Homo sapiens: one gene and its partner. The protein of the gene in region 2 interacts with the protein of the main gene of each other region in a pairwise test. Each region holds a gene or a part of one and is shown on either strand. Other genes may lie near its edges. The genes, in order: BAG3 and NIBAN3.

Region 1 (3,262 bases), on a different chromosome or scaffold from region 2:
AGAGTGAGACCCTGTCCCCCACAAAAATCTATATATCTATATGGCTGTAGTTTATAGTCACAGGAAAACCTGTGCAGCCAGAGGTTAGCACAGAGGCGCTGTGTCATTGCTGAATGTTAGGCTACAGCACAGCTATCCTGAAGCAAAATTGTTCTGGAGTTAACCATTTAGAGCATCTTGGCTAATCCTAAAAAAATACATTGGTCTGGGCAGAAACTACTAGGCTGTCACGGTTTTAAAAAAAGAAGATCGTATCTTTTCTAAAACAGGAGACAAGAAGATCACACCGTGAGCAGACTGTCTGCACAGTGTAAGGAAGAAGGACCAGAGGCAGCGACTCCAAGGCTGCAACACCTGAGAGCTGGAGTCACTCAGGACTCTGCTCTGAGTCAGCCTAGTTCAGCAGTCAGCATGAGTTTTTGCTATTTTTTTCCTTCTTTCCTTCCTTCCTTCCCTCCTTCCCTCCCCCTCCCTTCCCCCCTTCCCCTTCCCCCCTTCCCTGCTTCCTTCCCCCTTCCCCCTTCCCTCCTTCCTTCCTGCCCCCTTCCCCCTTGCCCCCTTCTCCCCTTCCTTCCTTCCTTCCTTCCCCCCTTCCTTCCTTCCTTCCTCCCTCCCTCCCTTCCTTCTTTGAGACAGGATCTCGCTCTGTCACTCAGGCTGGAGTGCAATGACATAATCGTGGCTCACTACAGCCTTGAATTCCTGGGCTCAAGCGATTCTTCCGCCTCAGCCTTCTGAGTAGCTGGGACTACGAGTGCAAGCTCCCACACCTGGCTAATTTTTAAAGATTTTTTGTAGGGTTGGGGTCTTACTATATTGCCCAGGTTAGCTATTTTCATTTTTGAAAATTTTATTGGGTTTCTTTTCATTGCCATTAAGAATACCATCTACAGAGAAATTCAGTGAGAGGTAATAGACAAATAGCCTGGGGTGATCAATGGAAGCCTGACTAATGATTGGGTTACATACATGATTAATACCATGTTTTTATTTTGTAACAGCCATTGATTGACTTTGAAAATCTTTTATACTATTAAACTTTTTTTAAAAAGCCATTTCTCAGTTTTCTTTCTAATCTGTACTAGCTACAAACAATTTCTGTGACTTTCAGTCAGTTATTAAAAATATATTTTTGTGTCCTTTTTTCAGCAGCCCATGACCCATCGAGAAACTGCACCTGTTTCCCAGCCTGAAAACAAACCAGAAAGTAAGCCAGGCCCAGTTGGACCAGAACTCCCTCCTGGACACATCCCAATTCAAGTGATCCGCAAAGAGGTGGATTCTAAACCTGTTTCCCAGAAGCCCCCACCTCCCTCTGAGAAGGTAGAGGTGAAAGTTCCCCCTGCTCCAGTTCCTTGTCCTCCTCCCAGCCCTGGCCCTTCTGCTGTCCCCTCTTCCCCCAAGAGTGTGGCTACAGAAGAGAGGGCAGCCCCCAGCACTGCCCCTGCAGAAGCTACACCTCCAAAACCAGGAGAAGCCGAGGCTCCCCCAAAACATCCAGGAGTGCTGAAAGTGGAAGCCATCCTGGAGAAGGTACAGGGGCTGGAGCAGGCTGTAGACAACTTTGAAGGCAAGAAGACTGACAAAAAGTACCTGATGATCGAAGAGTATTTGACCAAAGAGCTGCTGGCCCTGGATTCAGTGGACCCCGAGGGACGAGCCGATGTGCGTCAGGCCAGGAGAGACGGTGTCAGGAAGGTTCAGACCATCTTGGAAAAACTTGAACAGAAAGCCATTGATGTCCCAGGTCAAGTCCAGGTCTATGAACTCCAGCCCAGCAACCTTGAAGCAGATCAGCCACTGCAGGCAATCATGGAGATGGGTGCCGTGGCAGCAGACAAGGGCAAGAAAAATGCTGGAAATGCAGAAGATCCCCACACAGAAACCCAGCAGCCAGAAGCCACAGCAGCAGCGACTTCAAACCCCAGCAGCATGACAGACACCCCTGGTAACCCAGCAGCACCGTAGCCTCTGCCCTGTAAAAATCAGACTCGGAACCGATGTGTGCTTTAGGGAATTTTAAGTTGCATGCATTTCAGAGACTTTAAGTCAGTTGGTTTTTATTAGCTGCTTGGTATGCAGTAACTTGGGTGGAGGCAAAACACTAATAAAAGGGCTAAAAAGGAAAATGATGCTTTTCTTCTATATTCTTACTCTGTACAAATAAAGAAGTTGCTTGTTGTTTGAGAAGTTTAACCCCGTTGCTTGTTGTTCTGCAGCCCTGTCTACTTGGGCACCCCCACCACCTGTTAGCTGTGGTTGTGCACTGTCTTTTGTAGCTCTGGACTGGAGGGGTAGATGGGGAGTCAATTACCCATCACATAAATATGAAACATTTATCAGAAATGTTGCCATTTTAATGAGATGATTTTCTTCATCTCATAATTAAAATACCTGACTTTAGAGAGAGTAAAATGTGCCAGGAGCCATAGGAATATCTGTATGTTGGATGACTTTAATGCTACATTTTAAAAAAAGAAAATAAAGTAATAATATAACTCAAAATGGTTTTTGTGGTTTCTAAATCTTTGAAAGCAGTGGCATCATGGAGATTGTCTGTCCCTGGTTTCAGTCAGAATAAATGACAGGTGCATTTAACAAGCCTGCTTTGGGTTTTGTGACGTCTCCAATAGCCCGGCTCAAGAGAGAATTGTCTTGGTCACCTTTCAGTCTCAGATTGCAACAGGAACCTGGGAAGACTCAGGGCTGTGAACTCCGGTAATGGGAACATGCCTGCTGCATCCGTTCGGACCGACCCAGCCAACAGCCAAGGTGCCAGTTAGGTAGCATGTCTGCCCACCTGTCCTCAGGCCTCACCAAGAAGCTGAGATTGTCCAAAAGTGCCCAGAGGGCCTGGCGCAATGGCTCACACCTGTTATCCCAGCACTTTGGGAGGCCAAGGCAGGAGGATCCCTTGAGGCCAGGAGTTTGAGACCAGCCTGGGCAACATAGCAAGACCCTGTCTCTACAAAAAACAAATCAGCCAGGTGGTGGCATGCGTCTTCAGTCCCAAGCTACCAGGGATGCTGAGACGTGAAGATAGTTTAAGTCCAAGAGATGAGGCTGCCGTGAGCTGTGATCCCGCCACTGCACTCCAACCTGGGCAACAGAGTTGAGACCCTGTCTCTAAAAATTAAAAAAGGAAGCGCACAGGGAAGCCAGCTCCCACTATTGCCCAAGGCTGGCCAAAGTGTTCCTTGGAGTCTAGGTCACTGGGGGTTGGAAATGTGCTCTGAGAATCTTGGGGTCATCTTTATTAACA
Region 2 (3,196 bases):
CATCTTTTGGCTGCTTATACATTTCTTTTTCTTTTTATTTATTTATTTATTTATTTTTTGAGATGGAGTGTCGCTCTGTCACCAGGCTGGAGTGCAGTGGCAGCATCTTGGCTCACTGTAACCTCCACCTTGCGGGTTCAAGCAATTCTCCTGCCTCAGCCTCCCCAGTAGCTGGGATTACAGGCGTCCACCACCACGCCCGGCTACTTTTGTATTTTTAGTAGACATGGGGTTTCACCATGTCGGCCAGGCTGATTTTGAACTCCTGACCTCAGGTGATCCACCTGCCTCGGCCTCCCAAAGTGCTGGGATTACAAGCGTGAGCCACTGCACCCGGCCTACATTTCTTTTTTTTTATTTTTATTTTTTGAGATGGAGTTTCGCTCTTGTCACCCGGGCTGGAGTGCAATGGCGCGATCTCGGCTAACTGCAACCTCTGCCTCTCGGGTTCAAGCGATTCTCATGCCTCAGCCTCCCGAGTAGCTGGGATTACAGGCGCCCACCACCATGCCCAGCTAATTTTTGTATTTTTAGTAAAGATGAGGTTTCACCATGTTGGCCAAGCTGGTCTTGAACTCCTGATCCTTGGTCTCCCAGAGTGCTGGGATTACAGGCATGAGCCATTGCGCCCAGCCAACATCTCTATTAACTCTGATTTTTTAAGCACTTATTACATGCCAGGCATCTGACACATCTGATTTTTGACGTCCGTATATTTTCCATTATACAGATGAGGAAACTGAGGCTGAGCGGGAAGGAGGGGCTTGTCCCAGGCAGCCAGACTCTGGTGCCCAGATCCAGCCACTCTGCCCACCGCCTTCTCCAGGAACATTCCGGAGCTGAATCTTCACCCACATCTATCTTGTTTCTATTGGATAAATGTCTACAAGTGGAATTTCTGGGCCAAAACGGATGTGCCATCTTTAGGCTTTTGTAACCCCTGCAACTTCAGAAAACTGTACCATTTTATACTCCAAGCAGCAGCATTTATTTGTGTATTTTCCCCAAGGCTTTCTTTATTTTAATTTTTTTTTTTTTTTTGAGACTGAGTCTTGCTCTGTCACCCGGGCTGGAGTGCAGTGGCAGGATCTCGGCTCACTGCAACCTCCGCCTCCCGGGTTCAAGCGATTCTCCTGCCTCAGCCTCCCGAGTAGCTGAGATTTCAGGCACCCGCCACCATGCCTGGTTAATTTTTGTGTTTTTAGTAGAGATGGGGTTTCACCATGTTGGCCAGGCTGGTCTCGAACTCCTGTCCTTAAGTGATCTGCCCCCCTCAGCCTCCCAAAGTGCTGGGATTACAGGTGTGAGCCACCACACGTGGCCTAATTTTTTTTTTTTAAATAATAGAGACAAGGTCTCGCTATGCTGCCCAGGCTGATCTCAAACTCCTGGACTCAAGCAATCCTCCTGCCTTGGCCTCCCAAAGTGCTAGGATTATAGGAGTGATCCACTATGTCCAGCCTCCAAATCCTTTCTAAACACTAGGACTTTTCATGAAAAGAAAAAAGCTATGCCAGTTAGACACACACAGAAATCTCATGATTTTATTTTGAATTTCTTTGACTAAATTGAACTTACAAATAAGTTTATTATGGCCAGGCGTGGCAGTGCACACCTGTAATCCCAGCACTTTGGGAGGCTGAGGCGGGCAGATCACTTGAGCTCAGGAGTTCAAGACCAGCCTGGCGAACATAGTGAGACCTCATCTCTACAAAAAATACAAAATTAGCGGCCGGGAGTGGTGGCTCACGCCTGTCATCCCAGCACTTTGGGAGGCTGAGACAGGTGGATTGCTTGAGCCAAGGAGTTTTGAGGCCAGCTTGGGCAATGTGGTGAAACCTGTCTCTACTAAAAAATAAAATAAATAAATAAATAAATAAATAAATAAATAAATAAATAAAATTTAAAAGAAGCTGGGCTGAGATGGGAGATTTACCTGAGCCTGGGAACTCAAGGCTGCAGTGAGTGGTGATTGCACCACTGCACTCCAGCCTGGGTGATGGGAGTGAGACCCTGTCTCAAAAAACAAAATCCAAATATGTTGATTAGCCATTTACATGTTTGTAGTTTTTTTTTTTTTAATTTCAGTGAATTGCCTGTTCATAGCTTTTTTCTACTTTTCAGGAGTGTTTGCATTTTTCTTATTGATATCTAATAACTCTTTATATCTGAAGGATATGAACGCTTTGTGATACAGGTTACAGATTTTGGGGTTTTTTTCTCCGCTTGCTGTGAGCCTTTTGGGTTTGTTTCCTAGCTCCAAATCTTAACTTGGTGTCAAGTTTCCTGGCTGGGAGACAAGCTTTTACCGACTTCCTCTGCTTGCCAGCAAAGTCATCTGCTAACTGGATATTGGCAGCTTCTCTGCTGTCTTGCAGCTGCTTCCGGAGTGGGTTCCACAGGGATTCCCGTGTGTTCTTGGTTCAGCTTGCAGAGGGACTTTCACACTCCCTGGAGACCGTTTCCTCCCATTCTGTCTGGAGTTTTCGGCCTACCCCAAGACAATGAGATATTCCTGACCTTTCCACCTATTTCCCTCCAACCCCACCTTCCGAAATACATTTGCTCAATACATTTGCACTTCATAGGCTTCTTTAGCTGTCTTCCTTTTACCCCGGACGGGATGTAGATGTTAATTCTGGAACAATTGCAGCTACAAGAATTTGTCATCCTGCCCCTTTTGAGAAAAACATTGTTTGCCCTTGGGTCTAAATCCTTCCAGATGGGATGGGATGTATCTTGTCACCTCCTTTTTCTTACTTAATATGAAAAGACCTTTCCTCATCAAGTCCACAGAGTGTAAATTTGTTTTTACCTTTTTTTTTTTTTTTTTGAGACGGTGTCTCACTCTGTCACCCAGGCTGGAATGCAGTGGTGCGATTTTGGCTCACTGCAACCTCCACCTCCTGGGTTCAAGTGATTCTCCTGCCTCGGCCTCCGTAGTAGCTGGGATTACAGGCGAAGCGCCACCATGACCGGCTAATTTTTTGTGTTTTTAGAAGAGATGGGGGCTTCACCATATTGACCAAGCTGGTCTCGAACTCCTGACCTCAAGTGATCCGCCTGCCTCAGCCTCCCAAAATGCTGGGATTACAGGCGTGAGCCACTGCACCTGGCCTGTATCATTCTTAAAAATTAAGTTTTAGCGGGGCATGATGGCTCACTGGTAATCCCAGCAGTTTGGGAGGCTGAAGGG

What was found.
Region 1: the proteins of NIBAN3 (region 2) and BAG3 interact in binary tests that used the Homo sapiens proteins (3 or more experiments, as listed by UniProt).

What each region holds. Positions count from the first base shown.
Region 1 is NC_000010.11:119,675,315-119,678,576, forward strand, and holds the end of BAG3 (BAG family molecular chaperone regulator 3), read left to right. Parts: intron 1-1,149; coding exon 1,150-1,968; 3' UTR 1,969-2,505; downstream 2,506-3,262. UniProt on the Homo sapiens protein: Co-chaperone and adapter protein that connects different classes of molecular chaperones including heat shock proteins 70 (HSP70s), e.g. HSPA1A/HSP70 or HSPA8/HSC70, and small heat shock proteins (sHSPs), e.g. HSPB8.
Region 2 is NC_000019.10:17,551,056-17,554,251, forward strand, and holds the end of NIBAN3 (protein Niban 3), read left to right. Parts: intron 1-730; coding exon 731-843; coding exon of another isoform or gene 844-937; 3' UTR 938-2,257; downstream 2,258-3,196.